Homo sapiens: one gene and its partners. The protein of the gene in region 3 interacts with the protein of the main gene of each other region in a biochemical or structural test. Each region holds a gene or a part of one and is shown on either strand. Other genes may lie near its edges.

Region 1 (3,625 bases), on a different chromosome or scaffold from region 3:
GCCACGCACCCCTGGGAATGCCTTAGAGAGGGGCCAATTGCCATCGCCAGGGGCCTGACTCTGCAACCATCCACACCTACGGGGAGTCCATTTGAGAGATGAGGAAGCTGAAGCTCCAGGCCCCTGGCTCGTGCTGGTCACCCAACCACCCGGAACCTGGTCGCCAACCCGCTGTCAGTTGCTCGGCAGTGGACTCCTCTCCTGGCTCAGGGCGCGGTTCCGGCAGGCGTCCACCAGGTGGCAGCACCGGCACATTCTGCAGGCTGTTCCGGCTCAGAGCTCGATGTAGTGCTCTGGGGTAACCTGGGCCCCAGCCTGTCCCCTCCCGCCCCCTGCAGCCCCTCCTCCCACCGCCTGCAGCCCCTCCTCCCGCTCTGTCCAGCTTCGAACAGGCCACTCAGGCCTCCCAGCCTTACTTCCACCGTGGCCCAGGCCATGACCTTGGCCCCAACTCTGGGCCCTGCCCTATCTGTCCTTCCTGGTGGTCTGTCTCATTCACTGCCCTACCCAGGGGAACAGCACCTGGGGCTGGGGGGCAGATGGCCACGTGGTCCAATGGTCTCCTTCATGGCTGGGGTGAAGCTGGGTGGGGTCAAGGGAAGAAGAGGTGGATCCCAACGGGGGCAGGGCCAGCCAGGGCCTCCCATCTCCCCTCAGGCCAGGCCTCTGGAGATGGGGGTGGAACACCTTCCATGGGAGGCTGCCCCTGGGAACAGGCCTGTATACTCCCGCCTCGGCCCACCACACAGCCTGTCCCCAAACCTGTTGGGGTGGCGGTGCCCACCAGGAGGAGCTGGGGAGGACCAGCTGCTCTGAGGATGCTGCTTCCCTCCCAGGACTCCCCACTCCCTCCCTGGCCACCCACTCTTCCACCCAGCAAAGTGAGCCAAAAATTTGAAAAGCAACTTTTATTGAAGAATTTGGAGGGAAGGTTCCATATTATATTATAATAGTAAAAATACTAAAGTTGAATGTTGTAAAAAAACGCCGTGGTGCAGCGGCAGCGGCAGCGTCTGGCCAGGAGGCGTGGAGGGGCCCAGGGATGGCCACCCCCACAGGGAGTCAGGGAGGGCCTGGGGCGACAGCGGAAAGGTTAAGCGTCGAAAAGGTCAAGTGCTACCGTGGAGAGATCATCTGAGGGGGAGGCTCCCGGTGGGACAGTCACCAAGAACTGTGACACAGAAGGGGAAGGGGGAGGGCTTTCCTGTCACAAAGATTAAAAACCCCCAAAATGCATTTGAACAACATAATACACAATAACAAATTTAAACCTTGCTCCTCTGTCCCACTGGGTAAACCCTGGCCCATCCCCCATCCCTGGTCCCATCCCAGGGGCCCAGCCTCCGATGACGTCCTCAGAGACACGGCCTTAGTGCTGGGGGGCTGCTGTGTGCCTGCCACCCCCAGGAGAGGGTGCTGGCCAGCATACCATAGTGAGGTTGCATCTGGTGCCACCAGGTTGAACTGAGGCCCAGGGCCCCAGAGAGATGACAGATAGCTGGTGACAGACAGCCCAGGGCGGCTGGCTGACAGAGTGAGGGGACACATGGGCAGGACCTGCCCGGCCCCCCAATGCCACATTGCGCATAGCTGCAGAAGTCCTTAACATTTCCCTACGTGAATCGGATTGTTCTGAGGGCTGAGGCCACACCCGGAGAACAAACTGGATGAAATAAATTAAAACCCGCAGGATAGTTTTCTTCCCTACCCCGCTGCGGGGGAGGGTGCTGCCCACAGCACAAAAACGTCTTTCCATCTGGGCTCGAGAGGACAGCGTGGCTTCTCTCAAATGCACCCGAGAAATAAAAACCATTAAATACAGATCATGGCACGAGGCCGCCTCTCCATCCCTCCAAGCTATCGTCCAGCGCAGTCCACCGCCGCCTCAGGCCGTGCCGCTGGCCGAGTAGGAGAACTGGGGGAAGTGGGGCCTGCGCTCGCTGTCCACACACTCCATGCTGTCATCTGTGGGTGTAGACAGCTCAGACCCCGGTGCCCCACCTCCCTGCCACCTCCACCCACCCACAGCTCCAGTAGGAAGCCAACCTCTTAAAGCACGGCCAGCACGCTGCCATACTGCCAGGAAACTGAGACAGGGCCCCACAGATTGACACAGGGACCTGGGCCCTCAGAGCACTGCCTCCCACCCTGATCATTGGCACTCTCCAAAAGGAACCTTTTTAAATATTTAGATTTTAAAACATCTGAAGCCAAAAAAGCTGAACACTGCAGGCCTCTCTGAGTGTGGAGAGAAAAGGGAGTGGGCGGGGGCAGGCAGTGGCCCCTCACCTTGGTCAGGTGGTGTGATGGTGATCATCTGGGCCGTGAACTCCTCATCAAAATACCTGGTGTCAGTCTCCGACGTGACCTGGGGCTTGAAGGGTGGGCTGAGCTGCAGAGGTGGGCAGACGGGACAGTCATGAGCTTCGCTCCCCACTCCCAGCACACCCTCAAGTGTGCTCAAGACCTTCAAAGCACCTGGATCTCCAAGGGGTCTCCAGGCAGGACTGATGTCAGAGAGCAGCAAGCCACCAGCCCCCCACAGAGGCAGCTCTGGGAGGGAGGGACATGAGGGGTGCAGGAGCACGGAGACAACCCTCAACAGCTGAGACGCAAAGCTGCCCTCACAGCAGCCCCAGCAGGCGACAGGAGGTAGTGCAGCCCAGCTCTGAGAGACCCTCCCTGCTACCAGGAGGTGATAACTTTATTTTTCCTTTTTCTTTCTTGTTTTCTTATTTTTCTTATTGGTCTTCTTGTAAATTGGGAAAGAGGGAGACTGTGGAACAAGGTGCACAGGATGAGCCCACCCTGCCTCCATGGCTCAGGGACTACAGGACCACAGCCTGCTGGCATCTGGCTGCAGACAGGACTCTCAATGACCCAGGATGAAGGGTGACTATAAGGTGATGTGCACACGTGAGGAGCTGCCAGAGAGCCCCTCAGGTCCCACAGTCAAGGACCCCCTCAAGCACTGCCCCACCCCAGAGTCTGGGCTGGGCACCAGCATTGTCCATTGTCAATTAGCAAGGTCTCTGGTCAAGGCTGGGCAGAGGTTGAGCACTGCCCAGGCCCCCCATACCCTTGGAGGGCAGGGCAGGAGGGTGGCAGGCCTCAAGGCAGGAACGGGGACCAGGACCAGGGCACCCTGTGTTAATGGGAGAACAGGTGCCCAGCTGGGTCCCAGGGCTGCCCAGCCCGACCAGCTGCACACAGCCTAGGACAGGCATTCAGGGGAGGGGCAGGCTGGGAACGGGGCAGAAGCACACCTGGTGACAGGGCACCCAGCATCTCAGAGTGCAGGCTTCCGAACCCAGCTGGCAGACCCCATCAGCTGGGGTGATGGCCAGGGCTCCTAGGGTCCCTGAAAGATGAGCACCCAGGATGGCGACTCATGCAGAAAGAGCTGCCTCCCTCCAGGGCGGACTCCCCCATGTGCCAGAAAAGTAGGTGCTGTCCCTGTCCCTGCACAGCCAGAAATAGGGCTGGGCTCTCCTTGCGGCAGAAGGGATTGAGGTCAAACAGGAGGAACTCGTGGAGGCCAAGGGGCAGCACCCCTGGTCCACCACCAGCCAGCCTTCACTGCACAGCGTCAGGGAAGGGAACCCCAAGGCTGGCACTCAGAGTG
Region 2 (7,725 bases), on a different chromosome or scaffold from region 3:
AAGGGGGCTCAGGTACCATCTACGCCATCGCCCATGCTCAGTGGTGTCACTTCTCAGAATCTATGCCAAAGATACGCACGACTAATGCACAAGGATTTTTACTATGCCATTATTTATGGTAACAAAAAGATGGGAAACAACCCAAATGTCCATCAATAGTGACTGGTTAAATACACATCGGTCTGGCTGCAAAATGGAATAGCATGCAGCCCAAAAGGAGAGCACCCGTGTGCATGGTAAGAGGGCAGCACTCCCAGGGCACAGCGGCGGGCGGGTCGGTGTCCGGTGGGAGGAAGAGCGGCCACCCAGCTCTGCCAGGGGAAGCAGTTCTCCCTGAGAGCCCCAGGCCCCATTCTTGACTTCCCCAGTGCCGGGTGGAGGAAGAGGGAGGGATTAGCCCGAGGCAAGTGGTTCGAGCAGACAGAAGGGAACAAAAAGAGCAGCGAGTCAGGCCTGATCGGGGCCGCATCTACCCCAAAAGAGGGGACCAGCGGATCAACAGCTGAAGCGTAAGGTGCCGCGGCCAGCTCCTGGGTGGGGCTCCAGGTGGCATCCCAGTTGTGGCCACCCAGCCCTTCATCCTGGGCTAGGCAGGCGGGAGAGGAAAGCGCAGACTGCACGGTCCCGGGCACGTCCTCGGCAGGCAGTGGCCTTGCACTGGCCGGCCCTACTCAATGCACTCCATGACATGTATCTGCAGGGTGTCCATATCAGGGGCCTGATACTGGCACTTGGGACAGCAGAAGTCAGGTGGCTCCTCGGGGGGGCTCCTCCTCTGGCTGGGCAGGGCCAGGGGAGAGGAGAGGTAGGCTGGGAAAAGAGAAGAGTCAGAGGGAAGGGGAGGATGGAGGGGGACGGAGACTTGGCAGGACTGTCAATGGCAGGCCTGGTCTCACAGGCCACTCATGTAAGACCAGGAGCCGCCGCTACCACGGCATGCCTCCCTTAGCCTCGGGGAAGGGGGTGGGCTACCGATGGGGTGGCCTACACGAGCTCCCGCCGTCAAGTCTCCAGAGAGCAACAGGAAGGTCGAACTGTGACCTCCCGCGGCGCAGCACCTGCCCTCCCCACCCACCTCCTCCCGCAGGCCCAGTTCTCGCTCACTCACCAGGGGCGGGGGGCAAGGGGGCCTGGGAGACCTCGACATGCCGCTTCCTCATGTCCTCGATCCTTTGGAAACAGAAACCGTCCAGTCAAGCCACGCATTTCTGTAAAGCTCCTTGGCTGGACTAGTGTCAAAGCAGCTCTTGGAAGCTCAGGTGAGAGGAGAGGGACCACAGTGAGCCCTAACCCAGAACACCAGGAGCCATCCGTCTCCTGTGGTCACCACTGGCAACCCCCCAGTGTCGCACCCACTGCGGGGTCACCACTGGCGACCCCCCAGTGTCGCACCCACTGCTCACACGGGCACGCTCTCAGAGGCCCACCTGGCCGACTCCTGACAGCTGGCCTTCAGTTTGCTGTACTCCCTCTGCAGCTGCTCCAGCTGCTCCTGCAGGAGCTCCTTCTTCTCGGCCAGCTTCTCCCGGGCCTGCCTCTCAGCCTGGAAGTCCGCCTTGTAGATATCCGCCTGGCAAATCCAACAGAAAGGGATGTGCCCGCCACAAGCCAGCCACCCACCAGGCACTGCGCCAGGCACCACAGGAACAAAGCAGAACCCACTGCTGTCCTCCCAGAGCCCCCAGCGGCGCAGAGGAAACAGATACGTCGGCGAGTAATGCCAAGCTCACCGAGAGGTCTAAGGAGCAGCACAAGTGGCTCAGAAGCTTACGAAAGGCCACTACAAAATGATGCCAAAGAGGCCGGGTGCGGTGGCTCACGCCTGTAATCCCAGAACTTTGAGAGACTGCGGTGGGCAGATCACCTGAGGCCAGAAGTTCGAGACCAGCTGGGCCAACATGGTGAAACCCTGTCTCTACTAAAAATACAAAAATTAGACGGGCATGGCGGCAGGCGCCTGTAATCCCAGCTACTCAGGAGGCTGAGGCAAGAGAATTGTTTGAACCCGGGAGGCAGAGGTTGCAGTGAGCCAAGATCGTGCCACTAGTGGCACTCCAGCCTGGGCAACAAGAGCAAAACTCAATCTCAAAAAGCAAAAGCAAAAAAAAAAAAAAAGACGCCAAAGAGACTCTCCAGGTCCCAGTGCCAGGGTGGGTCAGAGAGGAGGGCCCTCACCTGGGCCTTCAGCACCGGAACGGTCTCCATCACAATCTTGTGCTGCTCGGCCTCCTCCTTCAGCTTATCGATCACCTCCTGTTTGGCCACCAGGGCCTCCTCGGCCTGCTGGAGCTGCTGTTTGAGATCTTCCAGCTGCATTCCCTAAGGACGGGCAAGGGGAGCTGACGGAGCCTCGTCAGCCCAGGGCGAGGCTGGCTGAGAAGAACTGAGAAGGATGAAAGAGTGGCCCTGGCTGACCAGGCTGGGTGATGCCAGCCCCTGATTTGAGGGCCCATTGCAGGATCTCAGCGTGCACAGGGAGATGGCTGCGTCCTGTCACGGCCCAAAACGACAGAGGAGATGCTGAGGTTTTTTTCAGGACTGAAGAGGCCGCTGAGGTCATCTGGTACAACCTCCCAGCTGGGCCGACATTCCCTTCCCAGAATCCCCAGCTCCACAGCCCTCCTCCCACCCTTCACAGGCCACAGGCCACACCCACTCACAGCCAGCCGGTCCTGTGCCCGCCATGTGCACAGCTCAGCTGAGAGCCCTCAGTCCTTCCACTCTGCCACCTGGTCAGAGGTGCACTCCTCCCACGCAGGCATCTCCAGCCCCCTGAGACACACACAGACACACCCCACCAACGCCCCCCTCCAGAGATTAAGTGGCCAGTTTTGTAGCTAACTCTTCCCCATGTGACCTGGCTTCAGGCTTTGTCCTTATAAATCTCCTCTGGGTACACTTACGATTGACGGTGTCCTGCTAAAATGTGATCACTAGCAAACTGCACCCCAGCTTAGGTCTGATGAGGACAAACTAGGAAAAGGCTCCCAGCCAACACTGGGGTGGAAATGCTGTCGGGCTTACCTTGGCTTGGGGGAAGCTGAGCCAGGTGCCAGATGGCGATGGCTGGCAAGAGGGAATGTCCATGGAGACAAGACGTCCCCAGCCCCACAGAGGGAGCACCCCAAGGCTCTGGCCCAGCCCCCCATTAAGATGGCCTGCTGACACTCCTGAGAGCAACATCCTGGGGTTGCCATCTCCCCACAGCTTCCCTGAGCTGTCGCAGCTGCAGCCTGACACAGGTCTAAGGCAAGTCTAAGGCAGGTCTACCCATTCTCAAGGTTCAGGGCCACGGGGAGAGGAAGAGGCAAGGCCAGCCCTAGAGCCCCAGTGGTCGCACTCACTCGCTTCCGCTCACTGCCCACCACGCTGCTCTTGATGTGGTTGTCGTATTCTTGGAAGAGCTGGTGATAGGCCACCTGCAACTGGGCCAGCTTCCTCCTGAGGAAAGGGAGCTTTTGCTGGAGAAACCACCTCATGCCAGTCCAGCCACGGTGCTGCCTGCTTCCAACTCTACCCCCTTCCTTCCCTCCCTCGCATCACAGGCCTGGAATGGGGTCTTCCAAGGCTGTGTGAGGACTCCTGAGGCCGTCAACTCTAAAGCAGGCTTTGGTGGGCTGGTCACCAGGCAGTTAATATCGTTTTCCTAAAAGCTAGTATTTTTAATGTTTATAATAAAATCGCGGCCAGACGCGGTGGCTCACGCCCATAATCCCAACACTTTGAGAAGCCAAGGCAGGAGGATCGCTTGAGCTCAGGAGTTCAAGACCAGCCCGGGCAACATAGGAAAACGCCACCTCTACCAAAAATGCAAAAATTAGCCAGGTGTGCTGGCCTGCGCCTATAGTCCCAGCTACCTGGGAGGATCGCTTGAGACCAAGAGGCGGAAGGTACAGTAAGCCGAGATTATGCCACTGCACTCCAGCCTGGACGGTAGAGCAAGACCCTGTCTTGAAAATAATAGTAATAATACAATGGAACTACCCTGCACTGTTCAAAACTGTGAACTTCACAAACAGCTCAGAAAGGCAGGGGAACTGTTCTAGATTAAAGGAGACTGAAAAGGCACGCCAAGGACAGGAACCTGAGGTCCCAGATTGGATGCTGGTAGACGGGGGGGTTTGGGGGTATTTTTGTTGTCTTTCTGTTGCCCAGGCTGGTCTTGGAACTCCCGGGCTTAAGCCATCTACCCACTTTGGCCTCCCAAAGTGTTGGGATTACAGGCGTGAGCCACAGCACCTGGCCTAGAAGGGGTTTTAAAGGACAAGTCCCCTGATGACCTAGTGGCTAGGAAAAAAAAACTACAAAAAAGGCCACGTGTGGACACGCAGTGAAACGTGGTCTGGAGAGCAGATGGCATGACTGTATCAAAGACAAACCGGGTGTCATCATGGTCGCCTCTACCGTTAGCAAGGCTAAGGGACAGAATGGGCCCACAGCCACAGGCAGAATCTGAAGGAGTCCTCAGAAGGCAGAAAGAACCATGGACCCGACACTTCTCAGCCTTTCGGCTAAGATCAAGTGTAGAACCACAGACCCTGCGGTGCGGCCCCGCCCCCGCTGACTCACTTCTCCTCCGAGGCGGCCTGGCGCTCCATGCGGAGCGCGGCCTCCACGCTCTGGCCCTGCATGCGCAGCTGGTCCACCTGCACGCTGTGCTGCTGCTGCAGCGCCTCGCGCTCACTCTCCAGCTGCCGCGCCTGCTCGCTGGCCGCCCGGGCCCTGGCACGGGGAAAGAGCAGACTCAGGGAGGACGAACGGGGGGACGGCAGGGGCTATGCGCAGGGCGTGGGCGGGGGGTGGGGGTCGGCTCTGAACACCCTGTGACTGCGAGCTGATGCCAGGCGGCAGGGTGGAGGCACCGTCAACAGACACGAGGACAACTGCAGGGGGCCAGGTGGGAGCAGCAGGTGAGGAGCTTTGCTTAAGACGTGTTTGCTTCAATGCAGGGGCCCAGCAGGTGACCAAGTACAGATGGCAAGGAGACCTGGAAGCCAGGGGAAGGGGGTGGTCCGAGAAAAGGATGGGGTCGCCTGCATCCCGCAGTGCTGGGGCCAGGTGAGAGGAGCCCTCGGAACTGCCCGTGGAGTTCCACTGGGGGACTGCTGGGGGCCCCAGCAAAAGCAGTCTCAGTGGAGGGGGTCAGGAGAGACTGCTGTTCCAAAAATGAGAGACTGCCCACCTGGGCGTGCAAGCACTGAGCTCAATGCAGACCGGGCCTCGGCCCCATCCCTGCTGCTGCCCAGAGCTCTGCTGGAGTCCCAGACGACCTGCTCGGATGCTCAGTTCCCACACCTGCCCCCCTACAGCTCCCTTAACCTCCAGTTTCCAGGGTCTGGCCTCATCCCACCACACCAAGCCCTTCCACAGCCTCACTGCAGGGACAATGGTGGGTGCATCTGTCCAGGTCCTGGGTGGCCTCTGGCCACAGGCAGACACGGCCCTTCTCCAGTCACCCCAACTCTGCCTGGCAGGCCTGGCTGCTTGGCTCTCCCCTCCGCGCCTGCCTGCATACTGCCCCCACACCCTGCACGGGTTCCCTCTGCCCATCAGAGCCTGGGTCAAGCTCCCCTCCCCTCTGCCCTGCTGGCTGCCCCAAGTGCACCTTGACCGCCTACTGTGCTGGGATGGCTGGGGCCCCCCTGGCAGCTGATCCATCTGTCTGGAGGGCAGAAGCAGGACCGAATGAGAACCACAGAAACCTCCCTGCCCTTTGACCCAATGGTCCCACTCACAAGAACCAAGACCCCTTTGCAAAAGAGAGTAACCAGCAGGCCTGAGGCCACCGGCTGGCAAGGTTGGCCCTTGGCTGGTGAAGTTCCCTTGCCACAGTGACACTTTCTCTAGTGGTCAGGTCGGTCCCTGCACCTAGGCCATTTGTAGGAAGAACGTGGTTGACGTGAGCACCCGCTCTGCTGCTGGGAGTCGGGGATTTAGGTACCTGCCTGGCAGAGGGCGCTGACAGGACCTGCCCCCAGTAAACACCCAGGGCGCTGAGTCTCTAGCGGGCATCCCTGGGCAGGAACACGGCCCGTGTGGGAGGCGCTTCTCACTGTGCCGCTCGCAGGGCAGCGGGAGGCTGGGACAGGGCTTCTCCAACTCCCCCCACGGCTCCTGCCCTGGCGGCTCCTGCCCTGTGCCTTTTTCCCTGTCATCAACCTCAGCCACGAGGGCGACTGTGCGCCGGTCCCAGAAGTCCTTCCAGAGAACTAGACACTGTGGGTGTGGGCTCGGGGCCCCCAGAATGCCTCCTAAGGAAATAATCCAAACTCCATCAAAGGGTCACAGAGTGCGGAGAGCCGGCTGGGACCCAGGTCCCGGATGCCTGGCCCAGACCTCTCCCGACGTCTGCCCCGACGTCTTTACGCAGCCTGCCCCGGTCTATCCTCATCAAGGAGCACCCTGGAGGCCCCTAAACCCACCTCATTGCTTTTGGAAACCCTGGAAGGGGTCTCCGGAGCCGGCTCCCCCGACTCACCGACCCTCCAGAGCCTGGCATTCCTTAGTGGCAGCCTCCAAGCGACTCTGGCTCTCCTGCAGCTCCCCGAGCAAGGACGTCACCTGGGCTTTCACAGAGGCCTTGTCCTCAGCCATCTGCTGCAGGATAAAAAGCCACTTCCTGTCAGCACTGCTTTCTCCCCAGCGGCCCACTCCTGCCATCCGCAAGCCCGGGGCAACCCGCAAGCGGCTGAGGCCTGCGCGCCATGAGGCCTTTTTTCCTGCCCTCGGCACCCCCAAACCTGGGTGCCCTAGGGCCTCATGAGCCCAAGGGCCACCCAACCCTCCCCAGCTGCCCACCTTAACCCTCTGCCACAGGGTGACACACAGATGGGGCAAAAAGAGATCCCCAAAGAGACGAAGGAGCACAAAGCTGCCTTGAGGTTGTCAACGGCTTAGTCACTGCCCCGGCAAGCAGGCCTCGAGGGCTGAACCCGGTGGCCTTGCAGCTACAGCCCCAGCAGGGGATCTCTCTCCGTCTCTCTGAGACTTGGGACAAAAGGAGGCCAGACACGAATAGGGCAAAGTAAACACAGGCCCCAGTCCACACCCGGGGCCGCCAGGATGGGAGAGTTTGTGCAGATCAAGAGTGGACACTGAATTTTGTTAAACACTGGGAACTGCAGAACCTCTCGGCAGGCACACTGCACTCAAACCCCTGCCCGAAGACACCCGGCCACCACCTCGCGGGGCCTCTGGGAGCCTAAGGCCGCGCCCCTGGGACGCCCCAGCCCCCTTTTGAGTGAGTTCCCGTCTGGAAACGCTCAGGGCTGCCCAGAGCATGTACTGTCTGTTCCGGCCAACACCTGACCTCCCTTTCTGACAGCATTTACTACAAAGGGCTTACCCTGTCCCTTTGAGACATCTGTGTAGCACCCACAACCCAGGGGCTTTCCCGAGGGCCCCGCAGCCACTCCTTGGAAACGGAAACCTCAGGAGGCGCGGGGCCCAGTCTCCCAGTCTCCACGGGACGGAAGCATCCCAACCTTGGTAAGCACCGGCAGCTCCCACACACGGCTGGCCTCGCGGCAAGGACGCTGGCTGCCCCGTCATCTTTCACCTGAGCCTGCACTCGCCCCCTCCCGACTCCCTCCTTCTCCCTTCGCAAGGCCAGGCCGCCTCTGCTGGGGCGGGAACGGAGCTCAGCTCTCTCCCCCGCAAGCAGGGGTTTCTGAAGAAGATCTCTTTTGCCAGCTTGAACAAAGGCCCGCTTTTGTGTACCTTTGT
Region 3 (7,970 bases):
AGAACCTCGAGTTGGGGTGGGCACAAGGTTCCCCTATAAGACAGAGAAAGGCTCGTGAGTGCCTGGCTCAAACAGGCAGTCCCTGCAGCCCGGCACACCAAGGCCTCTGGCAGGGACACACCATCCTCTGAGCTCCACTCCTTATTCTTCCAGGACGTGATGGTGACACCTGAAGCTAGCGGCTCATCAATGCCTTCCCAGTAAACGCCCCCGTCGCTGGTCTCGGCCACATTGGTAAAGATTGTGTTCTTCTGGATGGTCTTGATGGCATTGGGGTTGGTCTTCACTGAAGTCCCAGGAGCGACACCGAAAAAGCCATTTTCTGGGTTGATGGCCCTTAAATGACCTGGAGAGTTTTAAACCAGAGAAGCAGTAGTGAGTGCCAGGCAAAGCAGAACATATACTCTTATATATTGCCGGACTAATTTCTATGCCAACTTCTCAAATCTTTTTTCCCTCCCTAGAATATGCATTTATCTCTTTTCATCCAAGCATCATATGCAACTTTGATACGTTTACGACTCTTGCTTCCTCCACAATTTTCCACCAATACCATTTAAACAAATGTATGTATGTAAACAAACAGCAACATATGGCCCAGTTTCAATCCAGATTGAATATTAAGTTGAAGAATTCTTACAGGATCCATATTTCTAAGGCTTGGCCAACTCTGGACTAACAGAGTTTAAAAATCCAAACACTGGACTGAGGAGAATGTGACATGTTTCGAAGGCCAACGATTCGCTTGAGTCCAATCGTTACCAAGAGTTGGGTCTAAAAGAGTCACCTTGTGCGTCAAACTTCATCCAGGCAATGTCATCCCCGACGCACTCAACCTTCCACCCGGGGAGGCTGGGGTTCATCATGGCCAGGTTGGTCTTCCCGCAGGCGCTGGGAAATGCGGCCGCCAGGTACTTCTTCTCACCCTCAGGGTTGGTTATACCCAGAATCTGTTGGGGACAAGATTCTTTATTGTGATCTTTGTTTCCTTCTCCCCGAGGTTGGTACTTCAGCCCAGAGGTTGGAATGTAGGCCCTCAAGATCTATTTCTTCAGGTATCAGTGCAAACAAACACTCCCAGAATCATGAAGTCCAAAGGATCTCTATGGTCCCCTGGTGTTTGGGGGCCTTCAAAAGCGATGTATATGTGTAAACTAATCATTACTGGTGGGGTTTCCCGATCTGTCCGGGAACCTGCACGCTCAGAGAGGTGTGCTGACGGGTGGGAACTGTAATGCTGTTTGTTTCTGCCACCCCCCAGGCCTCTCATCTGCACATCAGGGCTTCCTGCAGGCTCACCAGCATGTGCTCTGCCAGCCACCCTTCCTCCTTGGCCAGCCGGCTGGCCATCCTGAGAGCAAAGCACTTCTTCCCGAGCAGCGAGTTCCCGCCGTACCCACTGCCAAAGGAGATGATCTCTCTGCGGTCAGGCAGGTGGGCGATGAGCGTCAGCTCCGGGTTGCAGGGCCAGTTGTTGACCAAAGGCTCTGTGAACAAGGACCCCTCCCAAGTCAGTGCGCCAGGGCCCTGCTTGGGGGTCCCCGAGGCACTCACTGGGGTTTGCGTTCAGCTTTCTTTTTTATTTTGACTTTTGATTCTGAAATAATACACTTACTTTGTAAAGGCAGAGGGCACCCCACAGAATGGAGGCATTTGACAAACTCCCCATCGCCCACTGCTTCCAGGACGGGCGTGCCCATCCGCGTCATGATCCGCATGCTGGCCACCACGTAGGGTGAATCCGTCAGCTCGATGCCGATCTTTGACAGAGGCGAGCCCAGCGGCCCCATGCTGAATGGGATGACGTACATGGTGCGACCTACAGGGTGCGATGGGTGGGCACTGGTGAGAAATGACCTTGGACTTCGAACACGACCAGCATTTTTTTCCCAGGTAGACCCATTTTCACGGTGTTCCACTAACACCACCACACCCTGCTGGTCACCAGCCCCCTGGGTTAGAAGAGGCCACTGGAAAGTGAACAGCCTGCTGAAATTAAAGAGTTTTCATAAATGTGCAATTGGGTCCCACCAAGCTATTTAAAACCCATATGCATGGAACTAGTTTTCACGTTTGTATAAGACAGTCTGTAAAAGCAGAAGAGGGATGTGCATTTTCAATACATTGCCAACTTCATGTATGGAACTGAAAGACATCTGAGGTGGTGGGAGCTTCCATTATTGTTTGAATTACCATTAGGATAGATGTAAATAAGAAAAGGCTCTCTGCTGTTTTACCCAATCAAATCAATGTTCCGCTCACCTTTCATGCACCCTGGGAACCTGGCATTGAACGCTTTCTCAAAATCCTCCTCTGACATCCAGCGACCGAGCTGGCTGAGGCCTGTTTTGGGGATGGGCACTGTGTCTCTTTGCTCTTGGGTGACGATAACCGTCTTGCTTTCGATCCTGGCCACATCCCTGGGGTCAGTGAGAGCCAACCAGCTGCAAAAATCACAGGCTTCCTTTCAGCCAAGCACCACGGGCAGCGAACCATCTCCTTCAGTACCGTGGCTTTCCATGCCTAGCAGAGTGCTGAGCACGCTAACAACAGTCCATCAGTGTGAACACACAGACCATCTAAGACATGGCCAGGTGGACATTTACTCCACTAGGACCTGGTCTGTAGGAGAGGGGCTGCCTTTTTTTTAATCAGGAATCTAGTTGGCAGAGCTTTTGTGCACACACCTCATTTAAAGCTTGGGCTGGCCCACTAATGTCACAAAATTCAAGTCTGTATGGTTCTGACCATTGCATTCATCTTCTCAAGAGTCTGAAACTACCCGAAGGCCTTCATTCACCTTTCTCCACCAACTCCCAGGAGACGCAGGGGAGCCCTGCCTGCAGGGTGCTGGGACAGGCAGCGGGGGCCGAGCTTACCAGTTGTCATACTTCTTCAGCCGCCTGAGGATGCCCTCTTCCTCCATCTGGCCCAGAAGCCGCCCATTCTCCTCCTCAGAGCCGTCACAGATGTGGATGTGATCAGGCTGACACAGCTCAGCGTTATTCTCGAGAAACTCCCTCACTGCCTGGGGTAGGCTGTCCAGGCTTCCCTGGACAACTTTGGCCGAGAGGTTCAGGCCGTTTTGCAGCTGAGGAGGCATTTCTGCAGAGTGCTGCTAAGGGGCACGAATGTGAGGTCACCTGAAATAGAAAACGCAAGCGTCCTGAACAAAAACAACAACAGACACCTTCAAACACATTCGACGGCCTTTTGCCAGGGCTGTGCATTGCCAAATAGTTATTGCTCTCAGGAAAAAAATGAGTTCATCTTTGTAATTTTTCAAAATGTAAATGCAAAGCTCTACTTACCTTTCTTCTCTTTGGATGATCTCGAAGGGAGATCCACAGGTTTCTTTCCGGGCTCTTCCCGCCAGCAAGTTTGTGTTCCCAGTGGGAAGGCCGTGCTTGGTGGCAGAACCTCCCAGCTTTAAATACTGTGGAAAAGAATAGCCCTGCCCCTCAGCTGCACCCAGGGAGGCTCGCCACTGACGTCAGGGGGCAGGTCTCTGGATCACGGCCAGGGTCAGTTATGCTTTGGGCCAACTCACTGCAACACGCCCCAGGGAGATAATCATTGAACAGATAGTTGTTAATGAATGCTGGGAGACTTCGAGCCCTCAACCAACCATAGTGAGTTTTGACACAACTTCCAACTGACTAAACCTTGACCCATTTTACTGCTGTTGCAAAACACAACACCCTTTTCTTAACAGGCAGGTGGGTCAAGGACAAGGTTGGCCGGGGCACCTGCTAGCAGCACATTTTGTGTACCAAGAGCTGCTGGTTGGCAAAACACCACAGCTATAAGATGTCACCCCATAGTCAAAGGTCACAGTCAAAGTTCATGGGAAGGATGCACCCTAACTTGGGCAAATATGTGGCTTATTGGCAAAGATTGGAAATGCCTAACCTAACTGGGGGCTAATCACTGTATTGATTGTCTGCTCTGTGCCGCCCCCGCCCCCTGCCCCGATGTAAACTCCATGAGGGCAGGGATTTCTCCCTATTTTGTTCATTTTTCTCTCTGTAGTGCTTGGCATAGAGTAGGCACAGGATGCACACATGCTGAGCACTGTTCTAAGAGCTTGGCATCATTACTACCCTCTGAGGTGGAGGCTATGAACAACCCATGTACAGATAGGGAAACTGAGGCAGAGATTGTGTAGCCACTCACAGCCGGCTGGTGGGTTGCAGAGTGAGGATCTGAACATGAGCAAGTTGGGCCCTGGAGCACCACGTCTCTCCCTGTGAGGTACCGCCACCTTTCCAGAACCTTCCCTGTGTCCTCCAGGGAGTTCTGGGCTGAGTGCAGTTACTCCTGCAGTCCACTGGCCACTGTTCTCTTCCCTGGCAAGTCTTAGAGTTTAGGGAGTGGAGGGGGCTTGGCAGTTTTGCTAGATTATATGCTTAAGCAATGAAACCTTTATAACAGTTGTAAAGAATTTGCTTTGCAAGCCATCAGACCTTCAGTCAAATTTAATGAGCTATGGAAGCTGCTTGCTGGAGTTTGGAGAACACAGGGTGAAATGTCAAAAGAACGGGGCTAGGTCTCAACCCCCCACAGCCAGCCCACACTTCCATGGAAGCCTCTCTACCTAAGATGAGGTCAGGTGGGGACTTGGCCCATCTCCCCGCTGGGGTGTGGGATGATCCCTGAGATAATCCCAGGACTGGGCTTAGAAAGAGCTGCTGTGGCAAATACAAGTCACTGTGAATGGCAGCCTCCGACCAAACTCACTTAGAGAACCCTCCTGGGGGCTTGGGTCACACTGTGTTGGGCGTGGGTCACACATCATCAAGTTCCACCAAAATTATCAACCCATTGCTATGTTTCCTGTATTCAGATTTTATTCAGCCAGTTGTGTCTTTCAGGATAAATATGATATGAGGTGCTTTTTGTTTCATTTGAAGTTATTCCCCGTTTAGGTCACTGGCATTTGTTATTAGTGGTGCTGTCATCCATACATAAGATCGTGTTGTGTCTAAACCCAACAGTGACGTGATGCTCAGTAGCCGAGGCCACTTCGTTAGCATCTGACATCAGTGAATTAGCCATCCCGATGCATGACCACAATTCCGTGACACACACATCACTCCCGGCGAGACTCATCCCACCAAATTGGTAGAAAGTCCCATTTTGCTGATAAAACGGTAACAGGTTTGAGTACCTGAAAGAGCACATAGATTGAAAACAAAAAGGGAAAGCAGAACTCATTTGGAGTCCTAAATGCGACCCATCCATTCCAGGTGCTTATGTTCTGAGTCTTCTGGGAGAGAAACAGCTAGTTCAAGTAAAACGTCAGAGCAGTGAGTCACCAACGACCTTCATCCGATCCTTTCATTACCTGCATTTACAGCGTGGAAGGACGGTAATGATTCCCCCGCAACTGTCCCTTGTCAAAATGTTAAAAAGCAAACATTGGTTTACAGACTTGCCTCAAAGGACAGAGTTCTCTGGAAGAAGAATCATGATAAAGTAGAGGGGTTTTGAGGACACACAGGCAAAAGTATGGGTACAGTTGCCTTAGGTCTTGGCAGATGATGCCCTCGGGCCCCCATTTTTCCTGTCCTTAGAGACTCCCTGCCCCAGTGGGGACTCATTGACAACAATTTCAAGGGGCTGGCCGGAAGCATGGGTCTTCCTCATCTGACTGTCAGCTTATTTGTAAGTAAGCCTCAAAACTAACTACTGTCTGTTGGTTTCAACAGGGACCCGAAGAAGCAGCCAAACAGCCACCCTGCTGGTGGGATCCCTGAGGACCCCCAGTTAACCCGCCGAGTGGACTTTGCAGTGTGTGCTCAGTGGGTGGGGCATGGAGGTGGCTCACGCTGCCTGTGAGTTGCGTTAGTTGTTTCTGGGACGGATGCCATAGAGACCTCCTAGCTTTTGGGGAGCTCCTTAGGCTCAGATTTTCTTAGGTCCAAGGCTGCTCTTCTTTTGAAAAATGTATAAAAAGTTGAGCCCAGATACAAAATTGGGGAAAGAAGGAGAAAGAAAGATCGGACACTAAAATAGTTTCAAACTAAAAGGGACTTCCTCCCTGCACCTTCCTGGGGCCACTCCATGTTTTGCAGTTACTCAGGGATATCGATTGCTTTTTCCCTGCTTTGTGACCACACCAGCTATATCCTGATACGAGATAATTAGACGGATTTAAAAAGGTAAAGAGAAGTTTTGCATCCAATTTGCTGCAATCTCATATTCTCTAGGAAGCCTCAGCTCAAACGTTTATTAAATGCTTGCTATGTCTCTAGCACCGGGCATAATAATCTTCATAATACTGGGCTTTCTCTGCATGCCAGAAATGGGATGCATTCCATGATTTTCTCCGATGTAGGTACCTTTGTTATCTTTCCCATTTTATAGATGAGGAAACTGAGGGTCTCAACCCAGCTGGGTATAGACGAGGGTCGAGAAAGGAATCATATTCATTCCTTCAACAGTGAATGAGCAGCTACTATTGCCAGTTCTCTAGATGTGTCCTCAAACTGAGAGTCCTTTTCCTGTCTATACTCCCAGCACATAGTCATCAAGCACTTGCTGAGCACCTACTTCATACTGATCCTAGGGTCCACTTCATAGTCTCAAGAGCATGCCTCACTCTTGGAAGGGGGCTCTTCTCTTGGAGTTTCATGCTCTGGGGTCACTGTCTTGAAATTCATAGTGATCTTCTAAGTTTGTGTCACTTCTACATTTGAAGGGATGATGGGGCACGCGGCGTGGCTCTTGTACAGTTCTGCCTCCCTCAGCCTTTCTGCTTCTAAGGATGGAGCCTCAGCTGCCCGCTCCCCTGTCTCTTCCTGCTAGGTGACCACTGCTGCCCTCCACCCCGACTAGGGTCTGAGCACAAGGGCAGGGAAGTCAGGTCAGAGTTGTGCGCCCATGAGGGTCTGCACTCATTCCCATGAGCATCCCCTGCCCAAGGGAGCGCAACATCAAACAGCAAATGCAAAACATGCCACAACAGATAGAGAGACCATGGGAGAAAGGAACACAGGTTTTTTTTTTTTTTGTCCTTTTTGAACAAGGGGCCCTGTGTATTTTGCACGTGGTCCCACAAGTTATGGAGCTATCTTGCCTAAGAAACAATTTCCTCAAAGACTTAAGATGGAGTTGGGGAGACCCCCACCCTGATGTTAGAGTATTTGGTTTATCATCAGACCTACATGATGGTCCAATTAAAGAAGTTGTACATGGCCAAGTGCCACATAGACAGTTCCAGTGGGAGAGCCAGGGCCACTGTCTGCTATCTAAAATGTAATCAAGACATTGGTACAGTGCTTTGCAGTTAGTGAGAACGTTCCTCGAACTGCTCATACAAGGCCCCTGCAGGAGGGGGCCAGACAGTCATGGCAGACCCAAGGAAGCAAGGGGAGTTCCAAACACAAGTCCTCTGGGTCCCCCAGGCCAGGGTGCGCCTGTCCACCACACTTAGTCTACTGAGCATGTGTTGGGGAAGAAGTGGTCAGTGACAGGGCCACCTCTCAGGTGTCATTTTGCACCTGTGATGGACTGTAGCCCAATTTCTCCCAGCAGCCTACCATGAAGGGTTCTGGAAGAGTGGGTGAACTGGACTTTGACGAGCCTGTAGAATGCCATGCAGGATGGAGCAGTGACAAAGACAGCAGAAAACACGCGCAGGGACAGCCAAGATGCAGCAGGTGTGACCGGGGAGGTGGGTGTGGGGAATGGCTGCATTCCAGATGAACAACAGAAAACAAAGCCATGACTTTGGCGGGGTCTCACAGTGGAGGATTCAGAGGACAGTCTGATTGCAACACATGTTGGTGTTTCTTGGTTACCTGGAGGCCAATAAAAGAACAGAAATTCTGGGCCGGGTGCGGAGGCTCACGTCTGTAATCCCAGGACTATGGGAGGCTGAGGCAGGCGGATCACCTGAGGTCAGGAATTTGAGACCAGCCTGACCAACACGGAGAAACCCCATCTCTACTAAAAATACAAACAAT
Region 4 (4,653 bases), on a different chromosome or scaffold from region 3:
CTGTCGCTCAGGCTGGAGTGCAGTGGCACAATCTCGGCTCACTGCAAGCTCCACCTCCCGGGTTCACGCCATTCTCCTGCCTCAGCCTCCCGAGTGGCTGGGACTACAGGTGCCTGCCACCACGCCTGGCTAATTTTTTGTATTTTTAGTAGAGACAGGGTTTCACCATGTTAGCCTGGATGATCTCGATTTCCTGACCTCATGATCCGCCTGTCTTGGCCTCCCAATTCTGCCGTTTTTAAACCAGTATTTCCTCAGTCCAGTCAGCCAACTTAAATCTCATGAGTTTCTGCCTTCTACTGAAAGAAAAATTTGCTAGTGACTCAATCTTAGAAAAAAGAAAATCTCCTTCTATAAAGACCTCAAAATTTCCTGTCAACAGCTTTAGTTTGTGAACCTTAAACTCTTATTGAAAATCTATGTTTAGGGTGTAAGCAGTTTATCATGGTATCTTCCTCCCCCTTACCCTTCTCCTCTTTTTGGGAAGTCATCCTTCACATATTGTTTGGTTTCATCCTGATGCATCTAGAGGACATAAGAATGGGGTTTCTGAAACAGTTCTCCCATGAATTAATTAGTCCTGCAACTTATAGGGTTTCCAGAGTTATTGGGTAAACTACAGTTTATTTCCCTCTTGGAGTGTTATAATTCACTAGTAAAAGTATTTCTCTTCCAACTTCTTAGAGATCCAGCAGTGAGGTCATCTACCCTGGTTAACCACATTCATCCTTGGAGAAACACTTTATATTAAGCTTGTTTCTTATCTATGAAATGAGTGGTTTAGATCAACTTCATCTCTAGAGTACCTGTTTTCTATTTCTTTTCAGATTTTATAGATCCTGATACTTAACTTTTTTTTTTTTTTTCTGTCCCTTTATATAGAATTCTAGATGAGCTTTCCCATACAACTGTGCTTCAGGAAATCTTAAGTTTGTTTAGGTTTCCTAGTCATTCTAGGAAATTGGATATACTTCATTGTTGTGCATTATAAAATGATTAGATTAAAAAAAAAGCTTTTCCTTAAGAGAGACAGACACTGAAGAATGATGCGTATGTATGAAGGGATGGATTGATGAGGAATGTTACATGTTCAGCAAACTATTTCAGGGAGGCATATCCTTGGTTAAGTTAAAAAGTGTAAGTTCACATTTACTGAGCATCATTTACACTGTGTTGCACAAAGTTTTATTACAGAGGTATGATAAAACTTAGTGTTAATATGGCTTATTGCATGAATTTTGATGCATAGATAGATGTTCCCCAATAATTACTATTATAAAATGATTCTGTATCACAATGTAGCAGTAAATACTTTTTTTGCTTTATTATTTTATTATTTGCATTATTTTGCTCCTTAATGCAAAATAACTTTTTAAGATAACCTGTGTGAGTTTTGAACCTAAGACCGTATCTTTTGTTTGGCAGCCTTTTTTCCACTAATAGACACTTTATGGAATTAGCTGCAAGAAAGGCTCTTAGAAACCATTTAGTCCAACAGCCTCATGTTACAGATGAAAATACTGAGGCTCTGTGACAGAAAGTCACCTTTTTTTCCTCTACTAACTCTAGACTTACTCCTTTGGGGAAAAAAAACAAAAACAAAAACCTGTCTTGAGGTATGAATGATCCCTTTCCTTTTTAGTACAAGAAAATATATTTAAAATCCAGTTCAAAATAATATCTCCTTTTAGGTTATTAACATAACAATAGGGCTTTGTGTATATACTGCCAGAGTTAAGAGTTAAATATTAACCTGTTAAATTCCTGTTCAGGTTTACTTTTGGACATCAAGCCCATCACTGCCAGCCAGTGAAGAAGGATTCCAGCCTATGCCCTCAATCACAATAAGACCACCAGATGACCAACATCTTCCTACTGCAAATACTTGCATTTCTCGACTTTACGTCCCACTCTATTCCTCTAAACAGATTCTCAAACAGAAATTGTTACTCGCCATTAAGACCAAGAATTTTGGTTTTGTGTAGAGTATAAAAAGTGTGTATTGCTGTGTAATATTACTAGCAAATTTTGTAGATTTTTTTCCATTTGTCTATAAAAGTTTATGGAAGTTAATGCTGTCATACCCCCCTGGTGGTACCTTAAAGAGATAAAATGCAGACATTCCTTGCTGAGTTTATAGCTTAAAGGCCTAAGGAGCACTAGCAACATTTGGCTATATTGGTTTGCTAGTCACCAACTTCTGGGTCTAACCCCAGCCAAAGATGACAGCAGAACAACATAATTTACACTGTGATTTATCTTTTTGCTGAGGGGGAAAAAATGTAAATGTTCTGAAAATTCACTGCTGCCTTTGTGGAAACTGTTTCAGCAAAGGTTCTTGTATAGAGGGAATAGGGAATTTCAAAATAAAAAATTAAGTATGTTCTGTGTTTTCATTTTAACTTTTTTTATGGTGTTTAATTTGTGGTTGGCTGCAACTGTGTATCATGTATATGGAACTTGTAAAAAAGTTCTCGACATTCAGATCTTAAGAGATGAAATCACTTTTACCTATAAAAACCACTTTTATTGCGGTTTGACTGCATTGAGCTCTAGGATATTAAATGATATCACTAATATTTTGCATGTAATTTGCTCATTTGAGTGAGGGCACTTTTTTTGTACATATGATGGGGCCAATGCACAATACTTTTATCACAATCAACTTTTTCTTTGTATCCCTATTTCAATGAGCAGTCAGTCTCAAGAGGTTACTGCACTTCAGTTCTAACTAGACATTTGTACTAAGGTATTTCAGTTATGTAAACTCAGCCTGGGCACTTTCTGATAACTGTAAAATGTTTTATAAGATCATGATTATTGAAGATACATTTTGGAAAATTTTAAATGTTCGTGAGCAGCTTAACTACTTTTGTATCTAGCCTTTTTTAAGTATCTTGTTACATTTACTTTTTTAAATAAAGAAATTACAGAAGAAATGTCAAGTAATATTGAAGAAACAATAGTTTTTATTTATGTAGTTGTACATTTTTAAACTAAGGGCAATACACTGACATGGTTATGTGCATAAAAATTTTGACTTAAAGAACTGGAAGTTTATATACACCTGGACTATAAGAAACAGAAGAAAATCAGTCCACATTTTACAGTTAGCAGAGAATCCTAAATGGCACTGGCCTGGCCACCTTTTCATTTTACAAATGGGGGAAGTGAAGTGTGACCCCTTACTTGGCATAGGAAGTTAACTTACACCTAATAACTGACAGGTTTTTGTTTTGATGACCTATTAATTATGTAGCCTAGGATTAATATCCCAAAATTACTCTGGTTTAAGTAGCTTTATTCAGTGGCATAATAACACTGTTTTCTTCCTTAAGTCTTCAATGAAGTGACTTAAAACAGTCACTTTACATATTAAAAATGAGGAGAGCAATTCTCTGGAATCTCTCCTTTCAGTTCCTTTGTAGGATTTCTGGCCTTGAGGATAGTCTTCATGTTCAAAGGCACTATGCTTTTATTATATAACTTCCTTCAGAAGACTGAACCACATGATATTCTCAGCCCTGTTAACACTAAAAATATTTAAAACTGAATGATAGTAGTGACTCATTGTATTACTTAAAACTTATATAACACGCTGTATTAGATGTGTGTAAATTAGCCAAAGGTTATTTTACAAAGTGAGACATTGGTTTTTATGTCTAAATGCTATTTCTGAATAAATGAAATAGTAATTAGATCAAGAGCTGATTAGCATCAATGTGTTTGAAAGATATAAAATTTATACATCACCTTAACCTCTGTATGCACATGATGGGATTGATAAAATATTAAATGAGAACAAACTAGATATGATTAGGACATTTGAAACCCTAATTGTGAATTTATTTTTAATAGTTACTGAAATGAAAATATTTAAAATAATGCACAATGTCTTAAGTCTTCCTAAATCAAGATTTTGGTTAAAAAATACTTCTAATAATAGTAAAAGATTTTTTTTTTAAGTAAATCATAAAACGGTTCTAAATGTAAAATAAAGACATGTAAAATAAAGTTCTCTTTTGGTCTTGTTTAGTGTTTAAATCTAACAATTGAAAACAAATTTAGGAAGAGAAGACCAAGAATGAACTTTACTGAGTGTTTTCAGAGTTTGCTACTACTATTTTTTTCCCTAAATCATCTGGATACCAAGACTATCCAGTAAAATGGATAACTGGGGCAGACTTGAGAGGGTATTTTAAAGGAATGATTTCACTATTTAGTAGCTGCCCCCAAACAACATCCCTCCCATAAAGATACTATTTTTACATTTTAAAGGTAGTCAGCAATTCCTATGTTTAAACTCAAGTTGAGATAATCCCTTGAGGCAGTAGTTTCCATGCTTCTGTATGTTGTAAGATTCATTTGTAAAGTTTGTTAATGCAGATTCTTAAGCATTCCTCATCCTCTTGCCTCCTTTCTGATTCAGTAAGTCTTTGGTGGAGGCCAGGAATCTTCATGCAGATCATCCCAGGTGATTCTGAAACACTGCCCAAAGAATATTTCCTTTTTATTTACAAATATAAATGTCCCGCTGAAAGCTCCTGAGAGCCAAACCTTTCCTACTTAGAACTGCTTACAATCTATGGAAAAGTACATCTATTGATAAACTAGTCCTAGGTTGGATTCTTCCTACTGATAAGGGGCTGGTTG

What was found.
Region 1: the proteins of PCK1 (region 3) and AKT1 form a complex in vitro, tested with the Homo sapiens proteins (one study listed by BioGRID).
Region 2: the proteins of PCK1 (region 3) and IKBKG form a complex in vitro, tested with the Homo sapiens proteins (one study listed by BioGRID and IntAct).
Region 4: the proteins of PCK1 (region 3) and UBR5 form a complex in vitro, tested with the Homo sapiens proteins (2 studies listed by BioGRID, with this or other methods).

Annotation. Positions count from the first base shown.
Region 1 is NC_000014.9:104,768,456-104,772,080, forward strand, and holds the end of AKT1 (RAC-alpha serine/threonine-protein kinase), read right to left. Parts: intron 2,393-3,625; coding exon 2,290-2,392; intron 1,966-2,289; coding exon 1,886-1,965; 3' UTR 894-1,885; downstream 1-893. UniProt on the Homo sapiens protein: AKT1 is one of 3 closely related serine/threonine-protein kinases (AKT1, AKT2 and AKT3) called the AKT kinase, and which regulate many processes including metabolism, proliferation, cell survival, growth and angiogenesis.
Region 2 is NC_000023.11:154,557,404-154,565,128, reverse strand, and holds the end of IKBKG (NF-kappa-B essential modulator), read right to left. Parts: intron 6,598-7,725; coding exon 6,479-6,597; intron 4,723-6,478; coding exon 4,570-4,722; intron 3,442-4,569; coding exon 3,345-3,441; intron 2,320-3,344; coding exon 2,176-2,319; intron 1,571-2,175; coding exon 1,428-1,570; intron 1,171-1,427; coding exon 1,109-1,170; intron 811-1,108; coding exon 668-810; 3' UTR 96-667; downstream 1-95. UniProt on the Homo sapiens protein: Regulatory subunit of the IKK core complex which phosphorylates inhibitors of NF-kappa-B thus leading to the dissociation of the inhibitor/NF-kappa-B complex and ultimately the degradation of the inhibitor.
Region 3 is NC_000020.11:57,556,545-57,564,514, reverse strand, and holds the start of PCK1 (phosphoenolpyruvate carboxykinase, cytosolic [GTP]), read right to left. Parts: upstream 3,406-7,970; 5' UTR 3,312-3,405; intron 3,144-3,311; 5' UTR 3,104-3,143; coding exon 2,880-3,103; intron 2,445-2,879; coding exon 2,263-2,444; intron 1,820-2,262; coding exon 1,616-1,819; intron 1,488-1,615; coding exon 1,300-1,487; intron 951-1,299; coding exon 788-950; intron 347-787; coding exon 122-346; intron 34-121; coding exon 1-33. UniProt on the Homo sapiens protein: Cytosolic phosphoenolpyruvate carboxykinase that catalyzes the reversible decarboxylation and phosphorylation of oxaloacetate (OAA) and acts as the rate-limiting enzyme in gluconeogenesis.
Region 4 is NC_000008.11:102,251,634-102,256,286, reverse strand, and holds the end of UBR5 (E3 ubiquitin-protein ligase UBR5), read left to right. Parts: intron 1-1,772; coding exon 1,773-1,985; 3' UTR 1,986-4,014; downstream 4,015-4,653. UniProt on the Homo sapiens protein: E3 ubiquitin-protein ligase involved in different protein quality control pathways in the cytoplasm and nucleus. Mainly acts as a ubiquitin chain elongator that extends pre-ubiquitinated substrates.